Homo sapiens: one gene and its partner. The protein of the gene in region 2 interacts with the protein of the main gene of each other region in a pairwise test. Each region holds a gene or a part of one and is shown on either strand. Other genes may lie near its edges. The genes, in order: MTMR14 and LTK.

The links.
Region 1: the proteins of LTK (region 2) and MTMR14 interact in a two-hybrid assay, tested with the Homo sapiens proteins (one study listed by BioGRID and IntAct).

What each region holds. Positions count from the first base shown.
Region 1 is NC_000003.12:9,641,778-9,656,874, reverse strand, and holds the start of MTMR14 (phosphatidylinositol-3,5-bisphosphate 3-phosphatase MTMR14), read right to left. Parts: upstream 7,371-15,097; 5' UTR 7,292-7,370; coding exon 7,133-7,291; intron 6,548-7,132; coding exon of another isoform or gene 6,346-6,547; intron 3,255-6,345; coding exon 3,106-3,254; intron 1-3,105. UniProt on the Homo sapiens protein: Lipid phosphatase that specifically dephosphorylates the D-3 position of phosphatidylinositol 3-phosphate and phosphatidylinositol 3,5-bisphosphate, generating phosphatidylinositol and phosphatidylinositol 5-phosphate.
Region 2 is NC_000015.10:41,501,223-41,516,194, forward strand, and holds LTK (leukocyte tyrosine kinase receptor isoform 1 precursor), read right to left. Parts: upstream 12,606-14,972; 5' UTR 12,488-12,605; coding exon 12,445-12,487; intron 11,899-12,444; coding exon 11,755-11,898; intron 11,657-11,754; coding exon 11,485-11,656; intron 11,044-11,484; coding exon 10,893-11,043; intron 10,742-10,892; coding exon 10,595-10,741; intron 10,357-10,594; coding exon 10,200-10,356; intron 10,187-10,199; exon of another isoform or gene 10,125-10,186; coding exon 9,942-10,124; intron 7,908-9,941; coding exon 7,809-7,907; intron 7,015-7,808; coding exon of another isoform or gene 7,000-7,014; coding exon 6,847-6,999; intron 6,436-6,846; coding exon 6,340-6,435; coding exon of another isoform or gene 6,292-6,339; intron 6,242-6,291; exon of another isoform or gene 6,223-6,241; intron 6,069-6,222; coding exon 5,873-6,068; intron 4,784-5,872; coding exon 4,693-4,783; intron 4,556-4,692; coding exon 4,491-4,555; intron 4,309-4,490; coding exon 4,179-4,308; intron 4,084-4,178; coding exon 3,986-4,083; intron 3,843-3,985; coding exon 3,750-3,842; intron 3,653-3,749; coding exon 3,551-3,652; and 8 more. Other genes in the region: ITPKA (inositol-trisphosphate 3-kinase A), read left to right, coding at 241-337, 413-629, 775-979, 1,180-1,281, 1,566-1,637, 1,741-1,944. UniProt on the Homo sapiens protein: Receptor with a tyrosine-protein kinase activity. Following activation by ALKAL1 or ALKAL2 ligands at the cell surface, transduces an extracellular signal into an intracellular response.

The DNA of each region.
Region 1 (15,097 bases), on a different chromosome or scaffold from region 2:
GGGCACAGAGGTAAAACCACCAGCCAGCCAGCACCAAAGAGGGTAGGAAGAAGGGGAACGAAGAGAATGGCAAGGCAAAAACAAAGAAAACAAAACAAAACAAAACCCTCTTGTTCAGAAACTTTAGCTTAAAGATTTACGGAAACTAAGTTTACCCAGCTGGGCGCGGTGGCTCACACCTGTAATCCAGCACTTTGGGAGGCCATGGCAGGCGGATTGTTTGAGCCCAGGAGTTGAGACTAGCCTGGCCATCATGGCAAAACCCATCTCTACTAAAATTCAAGAACTAGCCAGGTGTGGTGCCACACACCTGTAATTCCAGCTACTTGGGAGGCTGATGCACAAGGATCGCTAGAGCCTGGGAGGCAGAGGTTACAGTGAGCCAAGATGGCACCACTGCACTCCAGCCTGGGCAACAGAGCAAGATTCTGTCTTAAAAAAAAAAAGAAACTAAGCTTACCTAATTCTGGAAGGAGGAATTAAGGAAGAGCTAAGAACCATAAATAACAGGGCCATAACAAACCCCAATTCTTTAGGCTTGGCGATCCCAAGTTCTTAGGTTATATAACTGAGGATGTAATACTGTTTCTGTGATCTATTTACAAGAGCCCTTAACACTCTTTTCTTGGAGAACCCCACTACAACCTTGTGAAATGGGCACTCTTTTTTTTTTATTTTTTTGAGATGGAGTCTCACCCTGTCGCCAGGCTGGAATGCAGTGGTTCGATCTTGGCTCAGTGCAGTCTCCGCCTCCTGGGTTCAAGTGATTCTCCTGCCTCAGCCTCCCGAGTAGCTGGGATTACAGGCGTGCGCCACCACACCCAGCTAATTTTTGTATATTTAGTAGATACGGGGTTTCACCATGTTGGCCAGGATGGTCTCAATCTCCTGACCTCATGATCTTGGACTCTCAAAGTGCTGGGATTACAGGTGTGAGCCAGCACGCCCGGCCAAGATGGGCACTCTTATAGACATCCCCACTTTACAGATGAGGAAACTAAGGCTTAGTGCTTAAACTCCTCCTACTGGATTGTTCCTCTGCTGTAAACCTTCTCTGGCTCCCCATGGCCTGCAGCAGCGGTTCTCAAGCTATAGTGTATTTAAGACATCAAGAGGCCGGGTGTGCTGGCTCACACCTATAATCCCAGCACTTAGGGAGGCCGAGGCGGCTGGATCATGAGGTCAGGGGTTCGAGACCAGCCTGACCAACGTGGTGAAACCCTGTCTCTACTAAAAATACAAAAAAAGTAGCTGGGCGTGGTGGCGGGCGCCTGTAATCCCAGCTACTCAGGAGGCTGAGGCAGGAGAATTGCTTGAACCCGGGAGGCAGAGGTTGCAGTGAGCCAAGATCGTGCCACTGCACTCCAGCCTGGGTGACAGAGCACTCTGTCTCAAAAAAAAAAAAAAAAAAAAGACATCAAGGGAGCTCTCACAGAATGTAGACTGGAAATTCTGATTCCAGAAGGCCCAGGAGAGGTTCTAGAATCTGTCATCTTTTTTTTGAGATAGAGTCTTGCTCTTGCTCTGTTGCCCAGGCTGGAGTGCAGTGGTGCAATCTCGGCTCACTGCAACCTCCACCTCCTGGGTTCAAGCGATTCTCCTGCCTCAGCCACCCGAGTAGCTGGGATTACAGGAGCCCACCACCACGCCCAGCTAGTTTTTGTAATTTTAGTAGGGATGGGGTTTCACCATGTTGGCCAGGCTGGTCTCAAACTCCTGACCTCAGGTGATCCACCCAAAGGAGGCTGGGATTACAGGCATGAGCCACTAGGCCAGGCCGAGAATCCATAATCTTAGTAAGTGCTTAGGGGTTCCTAGCACAATAAAACCACTGATACCCACACACAACCCACAGGTTCACACTCCCTGGCCTGATGATCAAGATCCTATATGAGTTGATCCCTAAGGACATTTTCAGGGAAACTCCTGCTCATCCTTCCAATTCCAGTTCTTCCCAGGCACATAAACACAAGGCAGAATTAACCATTTCCCCAGTTGGCCTACGGCAGCACTTCTCAAACCTGGTAGTGCATTCGAATCACCTGGACACCCTGTTCTGCTGTGATTCTGGCTCAGTGGCTCTGGAGCATGAGCTTCTGCGTTTCTAACAAGTTATTGAATGCACTGCTAGCCCTGCTTTGAGTAGCAAGGGGCTACTGCACTATGCAGCATGACTGCTGCGGTACTCCTCACAACATTTCACCCACGGGGCCAGGATTTCACAGATAGTGCTGACAACGGCTCCTGAAATTCCCTTAAAATCAGCAGGAAGTAGGGAGATTAGGAGAGCAAACTTTGAGATCAACATATACCACTTCCTAGAGCCTCATGCTGTGATTACTTATCAGTATCAAATAACTATACCATTTACTGACTACCTACAGGCCACAACCTGCACCAAGCATTCTGTGTCTGCTCTGGTATAAACTGTTAACCCACATAAGGTACTCAGGTCTTGGTAGGCCCACCATAAATGGTAGCTTTTATTTCTAATTCTTACAACGTACATGTCAGGCTTTTATCAGCCCCATTTATCATCTGGACTGCACTACCACTTTCTAAAATTTTAGTTAGTCCTTAAAAGGACTAATTAACATGAGGTAGAGAATTACCAATAAGAAAACTAAGGACAAAGCAGTTAAGTAACTTGCCCAGCATCAGTTACACAGCCAGCAACAGGGGAATCCAGGATGTGAACTCTAGACAGTCTGACTCTAGCAGTCTGACTCTAGACCTTAGGCTCTCAAGTGCTACATACGGTAAACGCTGGTAAGCCTGTCTTTACACAGTGTACCTCCCACTCACACTCTCTAAAAAAGGGACACTGATATTCAGAGAAGTGAAGTGTGAAGTCAGCTATCTTAGGACAATGAGCTCTAGGGTGGAAGTGAAACAGCAATCAAGGGCTGTTACTCCCAACCCCTCATTCTATGCCATGCCACCTTGCCAGTCTGACTTGTCCAACCTTGAAGTAAATAAAAATGCCAATAAGGATTAACACCTGGGGAAAGTGATTCTGCCCTGCCCAGCTACAGACTTCCTGGCCACAGGGATTAGCTGCCACGGACTCCCCAGACATGTACACTACGGTCACATGATGCTCACGTGTCTTTCTCCTTCTCAGAACTCTCATACTCCAGGAACACGATGTGCCGGGGATAGTGGCCACAGATATCCCCATTCGTGTTTGGAATCACGCTGAAACAGTAGTCTCGGCCAAACAGCTCCAGACATCTCTTCTCAATGCGCTCAACCTGCACAGAGAAGGAGACCAGAACACAAAGAGAATTCTGGGGTTCTGAGGGTGAGAATTAGGAGGTCCATGGCCTAAGAGGTCACTGGGAAAGACATGTACCTGGGTGATAATTATTCTGTGCTGGGAAGATGTGATGCTAGGCCACAGGTCCTACGTGTAGTCCATTAACCCATATATTGTATACTTCAGGAAGGATTCTTAAACCCCTAACAATGAATCTGAAATTGTGGGTATTGAGCATTTGGGGGAGACGATTACAGCTTTCATTAGATTCAAAGAGGTCTACAACCCATAAAACATAAGAACTCTTGGTCCAGGTTACTGAAACTGCCACTAATCCACTACCTTCATTGGTCAGCTTCCCCATTCTCTTATTTATTTTTTGAGACGGAGTCTCGCTCTGTCGCCCAGGCTGCAGTGCAGTGGGGCAATCTCAGCTCACTGCAGCCTCCGCGTCCGGGGTTCAAGCGATTCTCCTGTCTCACCCCGAGTAGCTGGGATTACAGGTGCGTAGAACCACGCCTGACTAATTTTTCTATTTTTAGTAGAGACAGGGGTTTCACCATGTTGGCCAGGCTAGTTTCAAACTCCTGACCTCAGGTGACCCGCCCACCTCGGCCTCCCCAAGTGCTGGGATTACAGGCGTGAGCCACGGCACCCGGCCTTTATTTTTTTAAAAGACACAGTCTCACTCTGTCATCCAAGCTGGAGTGCAGTGGCACGATCTCAGCTCACTGCAACCTCAGCCTCCTGGGTTCAAGTGAGCATATTTGGCTAATTTTCATATTTTTAGTAGAGATGGGGTTTCACCATGCTGGCCAGGCTGGTCTTGAACTCCTGATCTCAAGTGATCCGCCCGCCTCAGCCTCCCAGGTGTGAGCCACCATGCCTGGCCTCTTCCCCATTCCTTTTTTTTTTTTTTGAGAAAGAGTCTTGCTCTGTCACCCAGGCTAGAGTGCAATGGTGTGATCTCTGCTCACTGCAACCTCTGCCTCCTGGGTGAGCCACCACGCCCAGCCAACAAAAAATTTTTAATAGAGATGGGGTTCATGTTTCCAGGCTGCTCTCGAACTCCTGGGCTGAAGCAGTCTACCTGCCTTGGCCTCCCAAAGTGCTAGGATTACACGCGTGAGCCAGTGTACTGGCCCTCTTCCCCATTCTTTAGCCATAGACTAGTACCTACAAGCTCTATTCCATGCAACCAGTAAAAGCTGCAAAGTCTCTTTATACACAACTTGCTGGTGAAATAGAAGAAACAGCTCCCCCTAAAATTACTTATTTTGATCACAGTTCAGAGAAAAACACAACAGAAAAAAGGCATAAGAACTGTAACATCAAGAAGTTTGCAAGAGGGCCAGGCATGGTGGCTCACGCCTATAATCCCAGCACTTTGGGAGGCACCGAGGAGGGCAGATCACTTCTGATCAGGAGCTTGAGACCAGCCTGGCCAACAGGTGAAACCCTTTCTCTACTAAAAATACAAAAATTAGGCTGGGTGCAGTGGCTCATGCCTGTAATCCCAGCAGTTTGGGAGGCCAAGGCGGGCAGATCACGAGTTCAAGAGATTGAGATAATCCTGGCCAACATGGTGAAACCCCATCTCTATTAAAAATATAAAAATTAGCTGGGCATGGTGGCGGGCGCCTGTACTCCCACCTACTGGGGAGGCTGAAGCAGGAGAATCGCTTGAACCCAGGAGGCGGAGGTTGCAGTGAGCCGAGATCACGCCATTGCATTCCAGCCTGGGCGACAGAGTGAGACGCCATCTCAAAAAAAAAAAAAAAAATTAGCCAGGCATGATGGTGCATGCCTGTAGTCCCAGCTACTAGGGAGGCTGAAGCAGGAGGATCGCTTGAATCCAGGAGGTGGAAGTTGCAGCGAGCCAAGATCGCACCACTGCACTCCAGCCTGGGTGACAGAGGGAGACTCCTTCTGAAAAAAAAAGTTTGCAAGAAGTTAGTCCAAAGGTAGTGAGTTATCTCAATCGATTGTTCAGTTACAGATCTAACTCCCTGTTCTGCCTGAATTGTTATAAATACATATAAATATATATACATCTAAGTTTGCAGGAGATCAGAAGGCCTGGAGAGATAATTAAGGCCAGCCGCAGCCAATATGAGGTGTAACTTATGCTAACCCTAATCTTCAGGGTCATGTAAGTTGGAAGAGGGGTCCAGAAAAACCAATGACCTACAGCCACTCAAAAGACCCTTACTGGCCAGGTGTGGCGGCTCACGCCTGTAATCCCAGCATTTTGGGGGGCTGAGGTGGGAGGATTGCTTGAGCTTAGGAGTTTGAGACCAGCCAGGGCAATATAGCGAGACCATGTCTCTAGGAAAATAAAGAAAAATTAGCCAGGCATGGTGGTGTGTACCTGTGGTCCCAGGTGCTTGGCAGGCTTAAGTGGGAGGATCGCTCAAACCCAGGATTTCGAGGCTGCAGTAAGTCATGGTTGCACCACTGCAATCCAGCCTGGGCAGCAGAGCGAGACCCTGTCTCAACACAAAAAACAAAAACAAACAAACAAAAAAGCCAGGCGCGGTGGCTCACGCCTGTATCCCAGCACTTTGGGAGGCTGAGGTAGGCGGATCACCTGAGCTCAGGAGTTCAAGACCAGCCTGGCCAACCTGGGGAAACTCCATCTCTACTAAAAACTACAATAATTAGCTGGGCGTGGTGGTGGGGTCCTGTAATCCCAGCTACTTGGGAAGTTGAGGCAGGGAGAATTGCTTGAACTGGGGAGGCGGAGGATGCAGTAAGCTGAGATTGCGCCACTGCACTCCAGCCTAGGCGACAAAGCGAGACTCCTTCTCAAAAGAAAAAAAAAAAAAAAGCAAATTCCAGGATCCCACCCCCAGAAATTCTGACTTGGTAGGACTGGGTGGGACTAAGGAATCTCTGTTTTCACAAAGTATCCCATAAGCACAAATTTTAAAAGTACCCCAGATGATCATTAAACAGGTGGTCCCCAGACTATACTTGGAAAAATTACTTGGCCATTTGGAGAGTGAGGAAGTCCAATCCTTACTGAAGTCTTCCCTGGGTTACTTCAGAGACTACAAGATGCCAACTACAGAATAGCAACTCACGGTAATCTCTGAGGTCAAATCAGAGTTCTGTGGTGCAGGATGGAACAGAATTCCACTGGAAAACTTGGTGCTAAAGCTGCCAAAACCACGTGGGGGAATGAGATGGCAGGGTCGGCAAGATTCCCACCGCACTGCCAGCCAGTGCTTAGGGTGGGGATGGCCTGAGCTGACAGGAAGCCCTCCAGGTCTGGCGATAAGACGACTGGGTGGAAATCCCAAAGGGAGCAAAAAGAGGAACGGAGACCTGCTTTAGATAAAGGAACTGAAAGGGAGTGTGGGTTGTCTTCCTGCTCTATAGGGGAAGGAAAGGGATGGGCCTAAGTCATGCTGAGACCTTATAAGGGGGCAGCACACTGGGTTCACCTCCTGGCTCCATTCTGACCTCTGACCCCGAGGAATCGTCTCCCTATTTTTCTTAGCTTTTTCTTGGGGCTTTTTCCCTGACACAACTCATCCTACGGCACCTGAAGCAGGGAATAGACCTTCCTTAGGTCCTCCTCTCTGATCTTTGAACCTGGCCCCTCAGCTTGATCTCTCACCTCCAGACCCCTTCTCAAACAAGAAGGACCTCTTTGCTGGGCTCATTCTGACCCCAGTTCCTCCTTTTATGGTTGTCAAGACCGACTCTTATACTCCGGATACAGACCCTGGAGAACTCCTCTCTCTCTCTCCTCTTCCTCAGCGGCGAGGTACCACTCCTACCTTTTTCTGACCCCTGGCCTCAGCCTTTCCTCTGTAACTTCCCAAGTTAGGAGCCTTCCCCAGCTCATCGCACCTCCAATCTCACCTTAGAGCCGCCGGTCCCGCTGCCATCCTTGGCCCGGTACTGAGTCCGGGAGAACTCCTCCAGCAGCTCCCCAAGCCCCAGCTCCTGAGGCGGCTGGTTGCCTGAAGAGGCCGAGGACCCCGCCGAGGCAGCGGCGGCGGCGGCCCGAGCGCCGGCCATGGCCCAGCCCCGCGTCCCCTCAGTGTGCCTCAAGCGGGCCCATGGCACCTGCCTGCACCCAACTCCGACACTAGAACCTCCGGAACCGCCTCAGCCACCGCCTTCTACTTCCACTTCCACTTCCGGCCCCGCCCCGTCCCGCCGGATGTTTACTCCGACTCTGGCCAATCGGAGCTCTGGACCCGCGCCCCGCCTACGATTACTGGCCCGCCCCCGGCGCAGAGCGATCCTTCTATCCACCAGGGAGGCCACTGGCTGATACCGCGTGATCCGCCCCAAGGGGTTTCCCCCGGGGAAGCCGGGCTCAACCATTGGGCTGCCGGGGGAGGGGGGTAGCAGGAAGGAACCATTGAAAAGAACCAGAGGAAAAGTGGAATCAACAATTACAGGGAAGCCGAGCGTGGTGGCTCACACCTGTCATCCCAGCACTTTGGGGGGCCGAGGCGGGCGGATCACTTGAGGCCAAGAGTTCGAGACCAGGCTGCCAAAATGGTGAAACCGCATCTCTACTAAAAATAAAAAAATTAGCCGGGCATGGTGACACCCACCTGTAATCCCAACTACTTGGGAGGCTGAGGCAGGAGAATCGCTTGAACCCATGAGGCTGAGGTTGCAATGAGCCGAAATCGAACCACTACACTCCAGCCTGGGTGACAGAGCAATACTCTGTCTTAAGAAAAAAAAAAAATTACAGGGCGAGGAGGAGAGAACGCTTGGAGGCAACAAATTAGTACTAGAAACCATAATGGCAGTGGTTACCAATATTAAAACATTTCAGCCGGCCGCGGTGTCTCACGCCTGTAATCCCAGCACTTTGGTAGGCCGAGGCAGGCGGATTATGAAGTGAGGCATTCGAGACCAGCCTGATCAACGCAGTGAAACCCCGTCTCTACTAAAAATACAAAAATTAGCCGCGCGTGGTGGCAGGTGCCTGTAATCCCAGCTACTCGGGAGGCTGAGGCAGGAGAATTGCTTGAACCCGGGAGGCGGAGAGTGAGCCGAGATCGCGCCACTGCACTCCAGCCTGGGTGACAGAATGAGACTCCGTCTCTAAAACAAAAACAAAAACACAACATTTCATAAAACCCTTTCTCCCCCTGCTGCTCACAACATCCCTGTGAGTACAGTGCATTATATCATCAGCCCTATTTTATTGAGGTAGAAACTGGGAGTCAGGGAGGTGAAGCGACTGCCTTGAAATTCTGTGATGAGAAGCCTCTCATTATTATTATTATTAGAATATTTCAGACATTCGCAAAAGTGGAGACAATAGTATAATGAACCCTCATGTACCCATTAACTGGTTTTGAACAATAATCAACATCTGCTTATCTATCCTGTTTAAGCAGTCCCTTCCCATCCAGGGAATTATTTTAAAGCAAATCCCAGACATCACATTATTTCAGCTGTGAATACTTAAGCATTTATCACAACAGATTTGTACTTCAAAAAAAAAATACATAAAAAATATAAGGCTATTAACATGCCTAAGAAAATTAACAATATTCCTTAATGTGGTCTAATACCCAGTCTGAATGAAAGTAATTCGTTTTTGTTAAACTTTTAATAGAAGTATGATATGTACACCAGCGCCCCGGAACCCTCCTCCTGACCACTTTCAGTCACTACCCACTCACCAACAACCACCCACCACCCTGCCCCCCCAACTCCTCCCACCCCCAGTTAATCACTATCCTGGCTTCTAGAGTTTTAATACGGTAGATTGGTTTTTAATTTAATTTAATTTTTTTTTTTTTTTTTTTTTTAGAAACGGTTTCACTCTTGTTGCCTAAGCTGGAGTACAGTGGCATGATCGTGGCTCACTGCAGCCTCCAACTACTGGCCTCAAGCAATCCTCCTGCCTCAGCCTCCCAAGTAGCTGTGACTACAGGCATGTGCCACCACACCCAGCTACTTTTTAAATTTTTTTGTAGATACCGAGTCTCACCATGTTGTCCAGGCGAGTCTCAAACTCCTGGGCTCAAGCAATCCTCCCACGTCTGCCACCCAAAGTGCTGGGATTACAGGTTTGAGCCACTACTCCTGGCCTACTAGATATTTTCTGACAAATCTATATACGCATTTGTCTTAAACACCAAGGAATGAAATGACTGGATTATATGGTGTTAAAGAAAAATTACAGGCCGGGCATGGTGGCTCATGCCTGTAATCCCAGCACTTTGGAAGGCCAAGGTAAACTGATTACCTGAGCCCAGGAGTTCGAGACGAGCCTGGGCAACACGGTGAGACCCCCATCTCTACAAGAAAATCAACCAGGTGTGGTGGCGCACATTGAGAGGCTACTTGGGAGGCTGAGGTGGGAGAGGATCCCTTGAGCCAGGGAGGTTGAGGCTGCAATGAGCTGTGATCATGAAACTGTACTCCAGTCTGGGTGACAGAGCGAGACTCTTGAGACTCTGCCTTAAAAAAAAAAAAAAAAAAGAAAAAAATTATAGGCCATTATTTTGGACAAAGCACCCGCACTAGATCCTAACAAACAAGACTAAGAACCAAAATGGAGTAATTCCTACTAAACTTACATCTTACCAAGCTGAAACTAAATTATCTGACCTTCAGAGAAATCCAGAGAGATAATAGATATTCCCCAAACAGGCCACTTTCAATAAGCATGATAATGAACTTTCCTCTGCCCTTAATCCTTACAACAAAAGTAACCTGATGTTAATCAATCCATTATTTTTCTTCTTCTTCTTCTTCTTTTTTTTTGAGACGAGTTCCCGCTGTTCTGTCACCCAGGCTGGAGTGCAGTGGTGCAGTGGTGCCATCTCGGCTCACTGTAACCTCTACCTCCCGGGTTCGAGCAATTCTCCTGTCTCAGTTTCCAGAGTAGCTGGGATTACAGGTGTGCGCCAACACACCCGGCTAATTTTTTTGTATTTTTAGCAGAGACGGGGTTTCGCCATGTTGACCAGACTGGTCTCAAACTCCTGACCTCAGATGATCCACCCACCTCAGCCTCCCAAAGTGGTAGGATTACAGGCATGAGCCACGGCGTCTGGCCCAATCCGTTATTTTTCTATTGTTCTGTTTCCTTGTTCCTGCCCTACAGGGAAAGTTACTTTGAAATGACCAATCCGGCCGGGCGTGGTGGCTCACGCTTGTAATCCCAGCACTTTGGAAGGCCGAGGCGGGCGGATCACGAGGTCAGGAGATCAAGACCATCCTGGCTAACATGGTGAAACACCATCTCTACTAAAAAAAAAAAAATACAAAAAAACAGCTGGGTGTGGTGGCGGGCGCCTGTAGTCCCAGCTACTCGGAAGGCGGAGGCAGGAGAATGGCGTGAACCCCGGAGGTGGAGCTTGCAGTGAGCTAGGATGGCGCCACTGCACTCCAGCGTGGGTGACAAAGCAAGACTCCGTCTCAAAAAAAAAAAAAAAAAAGAAATGACCAATCCACTTTGTGTTGTTTGTGCTTTCTTCAGCCCTTATCTGTTTATAAACGCAATGGCTCACACCCGTAATCCCAGCACTTAGGGAGGCGGATGCGGGCGGATCACCTGAGGTCGGGAGTTCAAGACCAGCCTGACCGATGTGGAGAAACCCCATCTCTACTAAAAATACAAAATTAGGCCGGGCGCAGTGGCTCACGCCTGTAATCCCAGCACTTTGGGAGGCCAAGATGGTTGGATCACCTGAGGTCAGGAGTTCTAGACCAGCCTGCCCAACATGGTGAAACCCCGTCTCTACTAAAAATATAAATATTAGCTGGGCGTGGTGGCAGGCACCTGTAATCCCAGCTACCTGTGGGACCGAGGCAGGAAAATCCCTTGAACCTGGGAGGCAGAGGTTGCAGTGAGCTGAGATCACGCCATTGCACTCCAGCCTGGGGGACAAGAGCGAGACTTTGTCTCAAAAAAAAATTAGCCGGGCATGGTGGCGAATGCCTGTAATCCCAGCTACTCGGGAGGCTGAGGCAGGAGAATCACTTGAACCCAGGAGGCAGAGGTTGCAGTGAGCAGAGATCATGCCACTGCACTCCGGTCTGGGTGACAGAAGGAGACTCCAACTCAAAAAAAATAATAAAATAAAATAAAAATAAAGCCAATTAAGATGTTTAAGTTGCAATTCTGTCTTTTGACAATGGTCAAAGTGTAACTTTCTAAGAGTTTTCCCGTGACATTTACATTGCCTCCTGCAAGTCAGCAGAGTTCCAGTTGCTCTGCATCCTTGTCAATACTTTTTTTTATTTTAGTTTTTCTGGTGAGAATGTACTGGTATTTCTTTTGTTTTTTTCCTCATACTAGTTTATACTTTGGAAGAATGTAGTGGTATCTTATTGTGCTTTCGTTGTTGTTGTTGTTGTTGTTGTTGTTGTTGTTGAGACAGGGGCTTGCTCTCTCCCCCAGGCTGGAGTGCAGTGGTTTGATCACGGCTCACTGCAGCCTTCACCCCTGGGCCCAAGCAATTCTCCCACCTGAGCTTCCTGAGTAGCTGGAACCACAGACATGTGCCACCGCACCCAACTAATTTTTTAATTATCTGTAGAGACAAGGTCTTGCTATGTTGCCCAGTCTGATCTTGAACTCCTGGGCTCAAGTGAACCTCCCACCTCAGCCTCCCAAAGTGCTAGGGTTACAAGTATGAGCCACTGCTCTACTTGTGCTTTTAGACTATGTGCCCAGCTCTATTGTGCTTTTAAAAAATCAATTTTATTGAGGTATGAGTACATAGAATAAAATTAATCCTCTTTAATTGTACATTTTGATGGGCATTGCCAAATTATAAAATCACCAGTGTAATTAAGATGTTGAACATATATATCACCTCCAGAAAGTTCCCTTGAGTCCCATCTCAGTCCTTTCCACCCCTACCCCCAGCCCCAGGCAACAACTGATTTATTTTCTGTCACTAGCCTTCCTATAAATGGAATTATACCCTGTGTATTCTGTGTCTAGCTTCTTTAAGCGTAGCTAATTTTGGTTTTAATTTGCATTTCCCTGATTAATGAAGTTGATCACCTTTTCGCATATTTATTGCTCATTTGAATATGCTCTTGGGTAGTGCTTGTTAACATCTTTTGCCCATTTTTCTAGTGGGTTGTCTGTATTTTTATTACAAATTTATAGAAGAGGTTTGAATATTCTGGACATGAGTTCTTTTGAAATCGCCGTTACAAAATTGTAACAGACAGTGAAAGAGATTTGACCTAACCAACTCCATCTTGCTTCTTTTTTTTTTTTTTTAATTTTTTTATTATTACACTCTAAGATCTAGGGTACATGTGCACAACATGCAGGTTTGTTACATAGGTATACAAGTGCCATGTTGTTTTGCTGCACCCATCAACTCGTCATTTACATTAGGTATTTCTCCTAATGCTATCCCTTTCCCAGCCACCCACCCCACAACAGGCCCCAGTGTGTGATGTTCCCCTTCCTGTGTCCATGTGTTCTCATTGTTCAGCTCCCACTTATGAGTGAGAACATGCAGTGTTGGTTTTCTGTCCTTGTGATATTTTGCTGAAAATGATGGTTTCCAGCTTCATCCATGTCCCTGCAAAGAACATTAACTCATCCTTTTTAATGGCTGCATAGAATTTAATGGTGTATATGTGCCACATTTTCTTTATCCAGTCTATTATTGATGGACATTTGGGTTGGTTCCAAGTCTTTGCTATTGTGAATAGTGCCTTAATAAACATACATGTGCATGTGTCTTCATAGTAGCATGATTTATAATCCTTTGGGTATATACCCAGTAATGTGATTGCTGGGTCAAATGGTATTTCTAGTTCTAGATCCTTGAGGGATCGCCACACTGTCTTCTACAGTGGTTGAACTAATTTACACTCCCACCAACAGTGTAAAAGCATTCCTATTTCTCCACATTCTCTCCAGCATCCGTTGTTTCCTGACTTTTTAATGACCGCCATTCTAACTGACGTGAGATGGTATCTCATGGTGGTTTCAATTTGCATTTCTCTGATGGCCAGTGATGATGAGCATTTTTTCATGTCTGTTGGCTGCATAAATGTTTTCTTTTGAGAAGTGTCTGTTCATCTCCTTTGCCCACTTTTTGATGGGGTTGTTTGTTTTTTTCTTGTAAATTTGTTTAAGTTCTTTGTAGATTCTGGATATTAGCCCTTTGTCAGATGGATAGATTGCACAACTTTTCTCCCATTCTCTAGGTTGCCTGTTCACTCTGATGATAGTTTATTTTGCTGTGGAGAAGCTCTTTAGTTTAATTAGATCCCATTTGTCTATGTTGGCTTTTGCTGCCATTGCTTTTGGTGTTTTAGTCATGAAGTCCTTGCCCCCCATCTTGCTTTTAACCTCTAAGCTGGCCTTATTCACTCCTGGGCATAGGCTGAACTAACTTTGGGAGGAACTTAGTTTATAGTTTATAGTTTAAAACAAAGATGATAACAGCCCTTTCCTGAAACAAACCCCCTTCTTGCCTGGGGACTAGACTGCCATTGTAGGACTTAATAAATTAGCCCTAAGATTAGAAGTTATGGTTTAGGAGTGATGCAGCTGGAGGCTACAAGACTCTGACCTTCCCCAAATTGCTCCTGGGGATATCACTATTGTAAACCTAAGACCAGTGTTTGAGATACTTTGCAGACCCTGCACTTGATGGATCAGCTGGTACCACCCAGATCGATAAACTAGCTTATCTGACCTTGTGGCCCCCACCCAGGAAATTACTCAGCACAAGAAGACTCCCTATGAGTTCATCTCTGACCTGACCAATCAGCGCTCCTGGCTCACTGGTTTTCCCCACCTACCAAGTTGTCCTTAAACACTCTGATCCCAGAATGCTTAGGGAGCTGATTTGAGTAATAATAAAACTATGTTCTCCCGCACAGCAGCCTCTGTGTGAATTATTCTTTCCGCAGTTCCCTTTTTTTTTTCTTGAGGCGGAGTTTCACTCTTTTTTTTTTTTTTTTTTTTTGAGACGGAGTCTCGCTCTGCCGCCCAGGCTGGAGTGCAGTGGCGCGATCCCCGCTCACTGCAAGCTCCGCCTCCCGGGTTCACGCCATTCTCCTGCCTCAGCCTCCCGAGTAGTTGGGACTACAGGTGCCTGCCACCACACCTGGCTAATTTTTTTTTGTATTTTTAGTAGAGACGGGGTTTCACCATGTTAGCCAGGATGGTCTCGATCTCCTGACCTCGTGATCCGCCCACCTCGGCCTCCCAAAGTGCTGGGATCACAGGTGTGAGCCAGTGCGCCCAGCCTACGGAGTTTCACTGTTGTTGCCCAGGCTGGTGTGCAATGGCGCGATCTTGGCTCACCACAACCTCCGCCTCCTGGGTTCAAGCTATTCTCCCGCCTCAGCCTCCCGAGTAGCTGGGATTACAGGCATTTGCCACCACGCCCGGCTAATTTTGTATTTTTAGTAGAGACAGGGTTTCTCCATGTTGGTTAGGCTGGTCTCGAACTTCCGACCTCAGGTGATTTGCCTGCCTCAGCCTCCCAAAGTGCTGGGATTACAGGCATGAACCACTGCACCCGGATCCCCTATCTTGATAAATCAGTTCCATCTAGGCAGCAGGCAAGGTGAACCCATTGGACAGTTACAAATTTGGGGACTTGTCTGAGATTGCCCTTGTGACTACCTGCCTGTGGTTCAGTAGCCCCCTCTCCAGCGATGGATCCAGAGGCCACCCAAAGGGGCCACCTAGTTCTCTTGGACTAGGGGTTGACTCTGGTACTCTCTCCACTTGTGGGGCACTGACAACCCAATATGCATGGAATTTTTTTTTTTTTTTTGAGACAGAGTCTTGTACTGTGGCCCAGGCTAGAGTGCAGTGGCGTGATCTTGGCTTATTGCAAGCTCCGC
Region 2 (14,972 bases):
TAAGTCCAGGCTCTTGACAGCTCACTGGAGACGCTGGAATCACCTTCACTGCGCCTGTATCAGCACCCGCCACACAGGCGCACAAATAAACCTTCCCAGAGTGAATGAATGAATTAATGACTCATCCAGCCCCAGCTGCTTCCGGTGGGTCGGGGGCGTGGCGAGACCCTGTTTCAGTGGAGGGAGGGCTTATGCATTGCCGAGACGCCGATTATCAGACCTTGACCCTGTCGCTTTCAGAAAAACCACTGGCAGAAGATCCGGACCATGGTCAATCTGCCGGTCATAAGCCCTTTCAAGAAGCGCTACGCCTGGGTGCAGCTGGCAGGGCACACTGGTGAGCAGTGGGGCGGGTGGGCGGGTGCCCGCGACGGGAAGGGGCTGGGCGGCGCTGACGGATGCCGGTCCTCAGGGAGTTTTAAGGCGGCGGGCACCAGCGGGCTGATCCTGAAGCGCTGCTCGGAGCCGGAGCGCTACTGCCTGGCGCGGCTGATGGCTGACGCGCTGCGCGGCTGCGTGCCTGCCTTCCACGGCGTGGTGGAGCGCGACGGCGAAAGCTACCTGCAGCTGCAGGACCTGCTCGATGGCTTCGACGGACCTTGTGTGCTCGACTGCAAAATGGGCGTCAGGTATGCGTGCCCTGCCAGGTCGGTTGGGGGGATCAAGTAGGGGTCCGGGGCCGGGACAGCTGCTTGAGGGGGACCCGGGGCGAGTGCTCGAAGGGGTCTCCGTGTGCGCCCCCTCATGCCCTGGCCGCTGCCTGCGCCCCCACAGGACTTACCTAGAGGAGGAGCTGACCAAGGCCCGTGAGCGGCCCAAGCTGCGGAAGGACATGTACAAGAAAATGCTGGCGGTGGATCCTGAAGCTCCCACGGAGGAGGAGCACGCGCAGCGCGCCGTCACCAAGCCGCGCTACATGCAGTGGCGGGAAGGCATCAGCTCCAGCACCACCCTCGGCTTCCGCATCGAGGGCATCAAGGTGAGGCAGGCGCGCTTCGCTGGCACCGCCGCAGCCCCACTGCGCGCTGTCTTTCCCGATCCCCCGCTCCCGCCCCGCCTGCCCCTCCGCCCTCTCCCACCGCCTCGCCGTCCCCTGCAACTGGGAGGTACCGCTGCTCTACGCTGTCCTCTTCCCCACTGGCGGGCCCGGGGCCCCTGACACTCCTGTCCCACATCCAGAAAGCGGACGGCTCCTGCAGCACCGACTTCAAGACTACGCGAAGCCGAGAGCAGGTGCTTCGCGTCTTTGAAGAGTTTGTGCAAGGAGATGAGGAAGTGCTGGTGAGAGCGGGATCCCAAACCCTGAGGTGTTGGGGAGCCTGAAGCCGAGGACTGCCCCTGTCATCTGGCCCAGTGCCCTCGGCTGTGTCCCCACCATGGCCCTCACCGCGCTGGCTCGCAACTGCTCTACGCTCCTTCCCTTCTGGGCCACGCTGGGCGGGGCCCTGGGTCCTCCTCCTGGCGGCATTTGCCAAGCACAGCGTGGGTCCCGGCTCCTCATCGTTAGCAGGGGCTCATTTGGCGTTTAGTTAATTTGCCCTCCTCTCCCACCCCACCCTCTGCAGAGGCGGTATCTGAACCGCCTGCAGCAGATCCGGGACACCCTGGAGGTATCCGAGTTCTTCAGGAGGCACGAGGTAAGCGGCGGCTGCCCGGGTGCCCGGGCCGCGAGGGCTAGGGCGGGAACCCGGCAAGGGCGTCTCTGGGCAGGGCCGCGGCCTGACGGTGCGGGGCTCGCAGGTGATCGGCAGCTCGCTCCTCTTTGTGCACGATCACTGCCATCGCGCCGGCGTGTGGCTCATCGACTTCGGCAAGACCACGCCCCTCCCCGATGGCCAGATCCTGGACCACCGGCGGCCCTGGGAGGAGGGCAACCGCGAGGACGGCTATTTGCTGGGGCTGGACAATCTCATTGGCATCCTGGCCAGCCTGGCTGAGAGATGAGGCTGGACTCCTGTCCCCGCGGGCCGCTCACCTGACATGTGGACCTGCAGCTTTGTCCCCACTGTGCATGCCGGCTTGAGACTGGAGCCCCGCGGTGCAGGGCAGTTCACCGGGTCCTGCAGGACCAGGTGCCAGCCACTAAGGGGGGGCACCGCCGATGCCAGGGGTTTTGCCCACCCGGGCCCCAGCGTTCCCAGAGCCAAATGACACTAACTTATAGAAGGGGAGGGGGCAAAGGGCTTCTTCCTCAGGCCAGCTCTTCTGAGGAGGCTCTGCCCTCTCCAGAGGTGCCAGACCGCGGATTTTATTTAGCAAGCCCAGACCTTCCGGTCTAACGTCTCACACCACGACGGACTCCCCTTCCTAATAAAACTCAAAGACAAGATGCAGCTTCCTGTGCCTCAGGCCTCAGCCCCTCCCTCCTCCGGCCCCCTCTTCCTCAGTTCCGGTCCCTGGCATCCACAGATCGCTGGAGGATGAGAAGAGCTTTTTATTAGAAGCATCTGCAGGGTGGGGGGTCTGCCCAGATGAAGGATGCTCATAATGGGAGAGCAATCCAGTGCTCCCCATGGACACCTGGGGTGTGTGTAAGGCGGCCTCTGGCCCCAAGATCAAAAGCTGGAAGTGGCTGGGCCCTTCCCTGGGAGGCCTGGGCTGGTTTCCAGCATGGCAAGTGCAGCGCTGCCAGGCCAGCCCCGAGACAGGCCCAGACACACAGCACAGACTGCAGGGAACAGAGGCCGCTGGCATAACAGGCCACCCAGGAGCCTGAGGAGTATAGGGAGGGACCCTCAGTGCCTCAGTCCTTACCCTCAGGGCCCCTTGGGGCTCAGGAGCGATAAGTGGGATTCCAAAGGTTCTGAGGTTGGAGGCCCCTGGATTTGAGGGGCTTGAGGCCAGAGGACAGCCAGGGGCCAAGAGGGCTACCTCCCCAGCTTTTCAACTTCTCTGGACTCAGTTCCTGGGGCTGTGGGGGTCTTAGGCACTCCAAAGATCTGTTCCCCAGCCCAGAAGTCCCTTCCTCCTCTGGGGTGGGCCCCAGCTCCATTGGCAGGAGTGAATTCAGCACATCCGGGTCCTGTAATGGAAGAGTCAGGGAGCAGGGGGGCATAGAGTTTTCTGGCCCTCCCTCCTGACCCACAAGACCAGGATGTTAGATTAGGTCGGGGGCACACCTGAGTGCAGTACTGCAGACGCTCCAAGATGCTGGCAAAGCTAGGGCGGAGCTCAGGCTCGTGCTGCCAACACTGGGTCATGATGCGGTACCTGGGGAGAGGCAGGAGTTCATGCCCACCCATGGTTGTGAAGGACCTCCCTTCCCGGGCAGCACTCAACTCACACAGGCCCTGGGCAGCCCCTAGGAGGGTCCATCCGGCCTCCTCCAACGACGAAGTCCAGCACCTCCTGGTTGGTGCGCCCAGGATAGGGCATGTAGCCCAGTGAGAAGATCTCCCAGAGCAGCACCCCAAAAGACCTGCATCACAAGTGGGGGAACCAAGTGAGGCCCGTCAGGTGTAGCCTCCCCTCACATGAGGTGGCTGGAAAGGACAGGATTAGCCTCAGGGGAGGGGAACAGTGGGGAAGGGGAGGGGAAGGGTGTTATCACCAGGAATCTGTCTTGGATGTGAAGATGCCCTCCAGGAAGGCCTCTGGGGGCATCCACTTGACTGGGAGCAAGGCCCGGTCCCCCCTGCGGTAATAACTGGCCCTACAGGAGGGAGGAGGTGAATGATGAGTTGTTCACCACCAAGGTGCGGGGAAAACCCCCTTGGAGCAAGAGCCTTCCCACCTCCCAAGTCCCGCACCGGTAGATATCTCGTGCCATCCCAAAGTCCCCAATCTTGGCCACTCGGCTGGGTCCAGCGCAGCTCAGCAGGCAGTTCCGGGCGGCAATATCCCTACAGAGTAGGCAAAAAAAATCACTGCCAGAATCTAGAAGTTCTTGCTCTTCCTGATCTATTTCCTTAAAAGCTGTGTGGAAGGGCTGTTCCTTGGGGAGGGAGTTGGGATGGGGGTCCCCTGAGCCAGGACTGCTCCTAACCTGTGGATGAAGTGATTTTCCTCCAGGTAGTGGCAGCCCTGGGCTATGTCCTGGGCCAGTTGCAGCAGGTCCCGCATGACCAGAGGTGATGGCTGGCCCTGGGTCAGGCAGAGGGGGCATCAGTCCATGTAGGTCTCAGACACATGGACAGGGTCTTTAGAGGGGCCTGGGGGGGCTAAGACAAGGGTCTCACCAGGTGTGGCCGACTGTGCCTCAGGAAACTCTTCATGTCCCCTCCAGACATCAGTTCCAGCAGAATGAGGCGAGGGGTGGCCCTGAGGCTGAGCCCCACACACCGCACAATGTTCTGATGGCGAAACTTGCTGAGTGGGGTGGGGGACATATCCCGTTACCAGGAGGGAGACGGAAACCATGTTTTAGGCTCCACAAAGCTGGAGAGGCCCTCTGTGTCCCCTGACTTGCTACCTCAGCCTCAGGGTGAAGAGAAACTGTTCCCGGGCATTCCCCTCCCGCCTTCCAGCCCTGCCCCTGGTCCCAGGTGCACCTGATGATGAGGGCCTCCATGAGGAAATCCAGCTCATCCTGAGGCGAGCAGAGTTCTGGCAGGGTCTGGGGAGGAAAAGGGCACAGTTTCTGAGCTGCCCTGCACGCTTCAGGAGAGGGGGTTAACCCTAGCTCTAGTCATTGTCCTTCCCTTCAGGGTGTTCCGCTCTCCTACCCCCAGCCAGAAGTCCCACTCCTCTCACCTTGATAGCTACCTGCAGGGGACTGGAGTCCCCAGGAAGGCCAATTACCAGTCCCTCATACACCTCCCCAAAGGCACCATGGCCCAGGGCTCTGCAGGAAGACACGTTGGAAGGGAGTGGGCAGGCGGCCTGGAGAAGAGTCCTAGAGAGTCTAGTACCCCCTTTACCTCCCCTGCCCCTGCCATATGCCCAGCTGACCCTATATAGACTCTCTCCATACCATGGCATGTCCCCAGGTAGAAGCCCTGCAAGGGTGGTGCTCACTGGCATAGAGCCAGGGCAAAAAAGAGGGCAGATGCGGGCCAGAGTCAAGGTGGGAGTGCATGATGAGGACTTCCCTGGTCCCTGCAGACGCCCTGGGCGGGAGGCAATCCCTGGGCTCCAAGAGTCATGATTTTTTTTCTTTTTTAAACGAAGTCTCACTCTGTCATGCAGGCTGGAGTGCAATAGCGCGATCTCGGCTCACTGCAACCTCTGCCTCTCGGGTTCAAGTGATTCTCCTGCCTCAGTCTCCCGAGTAGCTGGGACTACAGGCAAGCGCCACAACGCCCAGCTATTTTTTGTGTTTTTAGTAGACACAGGGTTTCACCATGTTGGCCAGGCTGGTCTCGAACCCCTGACCTCAGGTGATCCACCTGCCTTGGCCTCCCAAAGTGCTGAGATTACAGGCGCCAGATCATATTTTTTTTTTATTGAGACAGAGTCTCACTCTGTCGCCCTGGCTGGAGTGCAATGGCGCAATCTCGGCTCACCACAACCTCCGCCTCCCAGGTTCAAGTGATTCTTCTGCCTCAGCCTCCCACGTAGCTGGGATTACAGGCATGCGCCACCATGCCCAGCTAATTTTGTATTTTTAGTAGAGATGGGGTTTCTCCATGTTGGTCAGGCTGGTCTCGAACTCCCGACCTCAGGTGACCTGCCTGCCTCGACCTCCCAAAGTTCTGGGATTACAGGTGTGAGCCACCACGCCCAGCTGAGAGATCATATTCTAAGAACTGGGACGGAGAGGTGACATTGAGCAAGTTACTTCCCCTTCTGGAGCTTCTCAGGGCCTCCCTCTCCCTTACACAAGGGATGTGGGCCAGATTTTTTCTGGGACTTATAATTCACTACAGCAGGGAGAGAATCAGAGGTGGGGATTCAGAGTGCATAGGTTCTCAGAAGGAGGCAGAAGACTTACCTGAGCAGAGTAACATTGGCTGGGGAAACCTCGGTGACACCTGGTGGCAGAGGCCAGGACTGGGCCGGGCCAAGCCCCACCTGGCAATAATAGGGATTGGGGGCTGTCCTGATGGCAGAGGTTCGAAGCTTGCTCAGCTCAAGCTCAGGGCTCGGCAGCCTCATCTCCTGCAGGCCCTGCCACTTCTTCTGCTTCACTGGGGGTGGGAAGAATAACGGCACACCCTCCACCTGCCCATCAACTCTCCCTCCCCCACCTGCCCAGGACACCCCTCCAGATGCTCATTAAGGTAAACGTTTTCCCCAGGCCTCCCCAGCTCCTTCCTATCTTAGAATCCCAGAGGAGTCTACCACGGCTCTGCTGCGGTGAGTGGTCTTGAAGTCAGCCCCGGGACCCCGCAGAAACCCATCCCAGCTCACTGGAGAGGAGCAGCCTTGAATCAACTGTGCCTGCTAGACGCTTCGTACCCAGAATCAGGACCCCACACACCATAAGGAGGCTCAGTGTTGAGGTTGCCACCACAGCCACCATCAGAACCAGAGGGCCTGGGGGCTTGTGCAGGTCTAGGGAGAAAGAGAGACACCTCCAGTGGGAAGGTCTTCTCTGTTCCTTTACCCTCAAGTTTTACCCACGCTTCAAGACTCAGCTCAAGTGTTAATTTTTCCATGATGCCTTCCCCCATTATCCTGGGCAAAAGCAACCTCTCCCTCTTGAACACCCCTAAAGCACTTTATACCTCCCACAACAATCGTCACTTGAGATATACATTTACATAGCTATATCTAAACATCCTCCCACACTGGACGACAGGCCTCTGAAAGGCACTGTGCACCGATGAATCTCCAATCCCCTGCCCAGCACCCACCACAGGGCCTGGCACACAGCAAATCTCTATACCATCTTTCCCAGTGGCCTACTGCTCCTCCCAGTCTGTGACCCCAGGAGTCCAGACCTTGGGCAAAGGTAGGACATACCCATGCAGGTGACGTTATCCACAGCTAGCTCCATGCCTTCTGGGCACAGGCATTCAGCCAGCTGGAGCTCTGCCTGCCATTGGCAGTCTCTCAAAGGGCAGTGACTGCAGTTGAGGTGCCTTCGGATCTCTACCTCTCCGTGGTTCTCGGTGACTGTGAGTAAAAGAACTGATATGATATGGTGTGGTAGGGCTGGGATATAGTAAATACATGCCTTTGGCTGGGTACAGTGGCACACGCCTATAATCATTGCACTTTGGGAGGCCGTGGTGAGCGGATCACCGGAGGTCAGAAGTTCAAGACCAGCCTGGCCAACCCCGCCTCTACTAAAAATACAAAATTAGCCGGGTGTGGTGGCGCACGCCTGCAATCCCAGCTACTCCAGCACTGAGGCTGCAGAATCACTTGAACCCGGGAGGCGGAGGTTGCAGTGACCCAAGATCGCACCACTGCACTCCAGCCTGGGTGACAGAGCGAGACTCTGTCTCAAAAATAAAAATAAATAAATAAATAAATAAATAAATAAATAAATAAATACATGCCTTTTCCAGCCACATGGTTAATTCTAGCCCAGGACTTTAGAGCAAAGAGCAGCACCAAGCTTACAAGGGTGGTGAGAGAAGCTGGGGGACTTCTGTCAAGCCTGCACACTCCCAGGTATTTGAAGCGAATTCATAGCAAGGGGGTACTTGAAAAGCACGCAGCATGCCCTGCATTGCCATCCAGCACGACTGGCAGCCCACTTTCCTTTTTTTTAAGACAGAGTTTTGCTCTTGTCGCCCAGGCTGGAGTGCAATGGCATGATGACAGCCCACTTTTCAAATGACCCTATGCTATGCAAGAATCCTGTGCTATGCAAGGTTATTCACAGTGCAGGTGGCTCTTCAGTGCAGTGCAGGAGTGGGCTCAGGGACTGCGGAAGAAGTCCAGGCCAGGCTCAGAGGTGGGGTTGGGGCCAATACCTGCCAGAGGCTGCAGGAAGAGCTCGCTGCTGGGGTGTATGAAGGATACTCCATCTTCCCCATCAGCCCAGAGGTTGTCAGTCTCTGAAGCGTCGCCCCCTGGAAGTGGAGAGTGATGGAGAGTTTGACTACAAAAATGGGGGATGGGGGAGAAGCTGGAATCTCCCGGTGGAAATCCCAGTGTGGCCCTCTCTTCTCCAGCATCATGATGCAAATGCTGTCTGTTCACAAGTGGGAGTGAAGGAGGTGAGGAGGGGGTAATCAGCTGGAGCCTGAAGGCCTCGCTGAGGCTGGCTGGGATGCCTCCTGCCTGCCTGAGCCCCTCCTGTCCCATGTCCTCACAGTCCCTTTCTGTGAGAATGTAGATCATGTGTGTATGTATGAGCAGTACAGCCCAGACAGGCACAAAGGCATTTACACTAGTTATTTGATCAAAACACAGATGACTGGGACTCTCCCTTACAGTTTCTGATTCAGTATGTTAGAGAAGGGCTGAGAATTCGCATTTCTTTTTAAAAATTAATTTTTAATTAAAAATAAAAATTCAGGGCCAGGTGTGGTGGCTCACGCCTGTAATCCCAGCACTTTGGGAGGCCGACATGGGCGGATTACGAGGTCAGGAGTCCGAGACTAGCCTGACCAACATGGTGAAACCCCATCTCTACTAAAAATACAAAAATTAGCCGGGCATGGTGGCGCATGCCTATAATCCCAGCTACTCAGGAGGCTGAGGCAGGAGAATTGCTTGAACCCGGGAGGCGGAGGTTGCAGTGAGCTGAGATTTGTACTACTGCACTCCAGCCTGGGCAACAGAGCCAGACTCCATCTAAAAAAAAAATTCATATATTTATTGTATACAGCATGATGTTTTGAAATATGTACACACTGTGCAATGGCTAATGCAAACCAATATATACACCACCTCACATGCTTATTTTCTGTGGTAAGAACACCTATAATCTACGCTCTTACCAATTTTCTTTTCTTTTTTTTTGAGACAGAGTCTTGCTCTGTCACCCAGGCTGGAGTGCAGTGGCACGATCTTGGCTCACTGCAACCTCCGCCTCCCGGGTTCAAGCGATTTTCCTGTCTCAGCTTCCCGAGTAGCTGGGACTACAGGCATATGCCACCACGCCCGGCTAATTTTTGTATTTTTAGTACAGATGGGGGTTTCACCATATTGGCCAGGCTGGCCTCAAACTCCTGACCTCAAGATCCACCCGCCTCCGCCGCCCAAAGTGTTGAGATTACAGGCGTGAGCCACCGCGCCCCGCCTCTCTTAGCGATTTTCAAGAATACATCGTCATTAACTACAGTCACCATGTAGTACAGTAGATTCTGGAAGGTATTCCTCCTATTTAACTGCCATTTTGCATTGTTTTGACCAGCATCTCCCCAACCTTCCCCCAACTCCCAGGATAATTTCCATTGTTTTTTTTTTAATCTTTGAGACAGAATTTCCCTCTTGTCGCCCAGGCTGAAGTGCAATGGAGTGATCTCGGCTCACTGCAACCTCCGCCTCCCAGGTTCAAGCAATTCTCCTGCCTCAGCCTCCAGAGTAGCTGGGATTACAGGCTCCCGCCACCACGCCCGGCTAATTTTTGTATTTTTAGTACAGACAGGGTTTCACAGGTTGGCCAGACTGGTCTCGAACTGGTGACCTCAGGTGATCCACCTGCCTTGGCCTCCCAGAGTGCTAGAATTACAGGCGTGAGCCACCAGGCCCAGCTGATAATGTGCATTTCGAACAACTTAGGTTGTGGGGATATTACCTGTTCCTGGACCACACTTTGAGAACCACTGACTTAACCCAATCCTGCCTTTCTGCCCCTTTGCTCAGCTTGCTCACTCGGCCAGCTCTAAGTTCTGAAGACTGCTGCAGAACAAGGCAGGGACCTGCTGTGATGGGAAAGATCCTGGATTAAACGGAAATCTAGGGAGTCCTGTCTGCATGCTGATTTGCAGTGTATTTGACCTCCTTTTCTAAGAGCTCCTGCTTTTTGTTTGGAGCTGCTGAGCAGGGCTTAATGCCTCTCCCACACCTATCCTCCCGAGGGCTCCGGCCTGTACTTAGGTTCTAACATCACCTCACCCTCGGGCCTGCTCAGCTGCCCTCTCCAACGGTGCACCTACCCCTGTAGCCGCCGCCGCCTCCGCCCGCAGTGCAGGCCCCGCCGCCGCCCCCGAAGCCGCCGGCCGCGGCCCAGCCAAGGGTCGCCCAAGCCTCGGAGCAGCCCTGGCCGCCCTCCGCCCCCTCCTGCAGTGAGCGGCCGGCCTGCGGAGAGGGAGCCCGCGACGTCCAGCCGCCCCCACCACCTGCAGAGCGACAGCAGGAAGGTTGGCAGCCACACGGGGAGCACGCCCGCCTCTCCCCGCGGCCCGCGCCCTCACCTGCCGCCCCGCCTCTCCCGCCGCTCCCGGGCGCCTCCGAGCGGTTCTCCAGTTTCTCGGGGGAGGCCTGAGTCCGGCCTCGGTCCCGCGGCCTCAGGTAGGCCCGACCGCCGCCTCCGGCCGCCACCAGCAACGGTTCCAGCTCGCCAGCGCGCACCTGTGGGGCCAGCGGCGTGTTCCAGGAAGCGCCCTCCAGCTGTCCAGGGGCACTGCCACTGGGAGAGGGCTCCCGCCCAGGGGGCCTGGATAAGGGCAGGGGCCCCCAGCCCAGCCCAGGCCAGCCCAGCCCAGCGCAGGGATAGGGGGACCCCAAGGGACGGACGGAGAGCCGGTGCGTGAGCGCCCCTGGGGAGAGGATTGGGACCCCAACGCTGAGCGCCGAAGGGAGCACGTACCCGGAAAACGTAGGTGGCGCCCCCGCCACCCCCGCCACCTCCCGCCCAGCGCCGCGACCCCGGGACCCCTTCGCTCCCATCCATCGCCGCGTGCTCTTCAACGGCTCGAGACTCCCCGAGGCAGACGAGCTGGCTCTCCGGGCTACCCTGCGGGCAGCGGGGGAGGGAATCGGCGGGGCCCGGGAGCCTCCCCTCGCTGTGCTGGTGACCCGGCACCGAGGAAAGCACGCTCCCCCGGCCCCCAGGCAGCCCTCGCCCCCGGCGCCGGCGCCGCCCCATCCCCACTGGCTGCGCTCACTCCGGGACAGGCGTCCTCTCCCTGCTGCCCCACCAGGATGTACAGCGACTCCCCGAGACCGAGGGAGAAGATTGCTGAGACGAAGACGCCATGCGCCCGCGACAGGTGGTTCTTGGCGCCTTTGCCGCCCGCGGCTCCGTAGGCTGAGATCCTGCGGGGAACGGACGGTGAGTCCCCGGCCTTCGGTGCTCAGGCCGGCCGCTCCGGGCAGAAGTTGGCGACAGAGGAGGCTCCAGAATTATTTTTTATCTGAGGGACTTGGAGGCTGCAATCGACTCTGACGGGATGGGAAGGGTAGGTTTGCACACCGAAAAATCAGATATTACACTTATTTCAGGAGGGTTCGTGGAAATGTGGGGAGGCTCAAGCACCCCTTGGCGCCGCCCTGGTTGGGGGCCTTCCGCTCGGTGTAAGAGGTTCCGGGTAAGGGCTAACTCGGTGGCGACTACTGCCACCTTGAAGGGCACTCAAGGTGGACCTCCCCGCGGAATAGTCCAAGACGCAAGTCGGTGCGCACGTGGACTTCGTTACCCTGAGGGTGAAACCTCCAACTAGCAGGTCACTGTCCACCCTACCTCCGCCGTGCACTTACAGATACTGGCCAGGGCCCGGCACGCGCCACAGCTGCACGCCTCTCAGCTGCCCGGCGGCCCCCACGGTCACCACCACGCTGGTCCCCGCGTACGCCCCGTCACATTGTGTCTGTGTGGGCCCATGCCGGCCGCTGGCCCCGCAGGTAGAAAACAGCCAAGACCCCTCGGTGCCTGAGAGCAAGGAGCGAGGCAAGGGTCGTCGAGCCCCTGGCTGGGCCAGAGGGGTCTGGTATGGTGAGCGAAAGAGGAAGGAGGCGTCTAAAGCTCACCCGGAGAATTCAGCGGGGAGGCTGGCTCCAAGATACTAGGCGGGGCGCTGACTTTCGGGTCCCGGGGGCTGGGACTTGCCAGCGGCAGGGGCGAGGACCGCAGAAAAGTCTCCTGGGACCCCGGGCTAGAGCAGAGAATGGCGCCTGAAAGGTGTTGGGAGAAGGCGCAGGACGTTAAGGCGGGTGGAAATAGGATATGAAAGAAAGAGAGAACCCCGCAACAGCTGCCCTTGCGGTCGCGGCCACACCCGTCACCCGGCCCAGCCGCGCTCTCAGCCTGGAAGCCACTACCCGACTCCGGTCGCAGAAGCCCCGCGGGTGCGCGCTGATAGGTCTGCCAGTTTCTCTCCTCGAGCGCCTTTCCCAGTGAATAACTTAGGGGCCGCAATGAATTTGGTCCTGCAGCCTCCCCAATGCTTTCCTCAACTTAGATTGGTGGCCCCGCCCCAAGGCGGTGCTGAGACCCCAAAGAATGTTCCTCCTTCCCAAGCTGCGTGATCCAGACTCTGGGATTCGCACGCACTTGGCGCTTCTCGGCCCGCACTCCAGAAGCACGGACCGGAGAAATTTGGCTGTGAGAGTTCGAGGCCTCTGGAGGAACCACTGACACCTGGCCTGTTGACCGGCCACCCCCAAGCCTAGGAAAGTGCCTCAGGCTGGACGGTCCCCTGACCGCCAGATAGCACTTACCCGCGGCTCCGAACCACACCAGCAGCTGTCCCCAGCAGCCCATCCCTGTTGGGTCCACCCGGCAACAAAAGCCCTTGCGGTCGCGGCCACACCCCTGTCAACCTAAAGTTGACAGCTCATTTTGCCACGGCAGCCCTGGCCACCACTTACAGGGGTGTGCTGCCGCTGGCGAGACACTCCCCGGACCTAAAGCTGGTCTGGCCACGCCCACCTCAGACCCCAGGACGCCAGAGGAGGAAAGGGAGGGGCGTGTGGGCAGCGAGGTCCCTACGCTTCCGGGAGGAGCCTTAAGGAGTCCCCACCCAGGGGTTCTAGTTTCCAGCCGTCAGATGTGCCGCAGCCTGCTGGGAGCTCCGGTAGGTTTGAGGCCGGAGAGGAGGTGCCCCACGCTTAAAGTGGGAGCCACACCTCGGACACCAGGTGGGGGCTTCCAGGTTCCTGAGGACAGGAGCAGTGGAGTGTGCACTTCATTTGTGGCAGTGGTGGTGGTGGTGAGTGTGTGGCATGCGTCACCACACGTGGGAAGTACTCTAAACTGCTCCAAGTAAGGCCTCATTACCTGCCATTACTTGTGCCTTTTAGTGGTGCCTTTGTGACTGCAAGGCTGAACCTCATTGCTACTCCCAGAAACCTGGATCTCTGTGTTTGCCTCATATAATTCCGTTGCCTGTGTTACCCCTGTGCACAGCCTCTCACTGTGATGGGGTGAAAGACTGGACCAGACGTTAGAAGATCCGAGTGTTTTTAGTAGCACTGAAGGTCAATAGATGATAGGTAGGTAGACCGATCGATCGATTGATCTTGAGCACTAGTACTGGCACCTCTGGTCAATGGGTGATGTAGCACAGGCCACAACTGCCCTGAGAGTTTCCCCACCACCTGCAAAATCATATGAAGGGAAATTGCTCTGTAAGGTACCCTACAAATGTGGGAGCCACTCCCTTCAGGTAGTTTTGTGTCTTGAGTCTTCGATCATTTGCTTAAATGATCATTTGCCGGGTGCGGTGGTTCATGCCTGTAATCCTAGCACTTTGGGAGGCTGAGGCGGGCAGATCACCTGAGGTCAGGAGTTCGAGACTAGCTAGACCATCATGGCAAAATCCCGTCTCTACTAAAAATACAAAATCAGACACACGTGGTAGCGCACGCCTGTAATCCCAGCTACTCTGGAGGCTGAGGCAGGAGAATGGCTTGAACCTGGGAGGCAGAGGTTGCAGAGACGAGATCGCACCATTGCACTCCAGCCTGGGCAACAAGAGCAAAGCCCCATCTCAAAAAAAAAAAAAAAAAAAAAATCCTAACTTGAAAGTCTGAGACCTATGTTTAATACAAAATACTTCAAAAGAGAAGTTATAGTAGTTAGCTACTTGGTAAAGTCTGAGTATAATTCAAGGTGTAAACAGAACAGTGATTTTGTAAAAAGTCTGGTCTCAGCCAGGCGTGGTGGCTTACACCTGTAATCCCAGCACTTTGGGAGGCCAAGGGGACGGTGGGGGTGGGGTGGATCACAAGGTCAGGAGTTCAAGACCAGCCTGGCTAAGATGGTGAAACCCCGTCTCTACTAAAAATACAAAAATTAGCCGTGCGTGGTGGCAGGTGCCTGTAATCCCAGCTACTTGGGAGGCTGAGGCAGAGAATTGCTTGAACCTGGAAGGCAGAGGTTGCAGTGAGCCGAGATTGCACCACTACACTCCAGCCTGGGTGACAGAGTGAGACTCCATCTCAAAAAAAACAAAAAACAAAAAAACCCTGGTCTCTATGCCCTACTTAACACTAGATATCACACTATGAGATCACAGAATTTACCTTGCAAAGTCTCTTTAAGCCACTGCTCTTCAAATTGTGGTTGTGTGGTTTGTTCTGAACATCAGCATCAGTATTACCTGGGAACTTGTTAGAAATGCAGATTCTTGGGTTTCACCCCAGATGTACTGAATCAGCAGCTTCTGGTGGTAGGACCCAGTGATCTGTTTTAAAATATCCTCCAGATGATTTTTGTCACAAAGTTTGAGAATCATTGGTATTTGCTGATACAGTAGTTGCTTAATAAAACCTATTGGGGCCACATGCTGTGGCTCACACTTATAATCCCAGCACTTTAGGAGGCTGAGGTGGGCGGATTGCCTGAGCTTAGGAGTCTGAGACCACCCTGGGCAACATGGCAAAACACCGCTTCTAATAAAAATACAAAAAACTAGCCCGGTGTGGTGGTGCATGCCTGTAGCCCCTGCTACTCGGGAGGCTGAGGCATGAGAATCACTTGAGCCTCAGAAACGGAGGTTGCAGTGAGCCAAGATCATGCCACTACACTCTGGCTTGGGCTACAGAGTAAGACTCTGTCTCAAAAAAAAAAAAGAAAAAAAGGCTGGGCCCAGTGGCTCATGCCTGTAATACCAGCACTTTTGAAGGCTGAGGCGGGCGGATCATGAGGTCAGGAGTTCGAGTTCAAGACCAGCCTGGCCAACATGGCAAAACCCCATCTCTACTAAAAATACAAAAATTAGCCAGGCGTGGTGGCACGCGCCTGT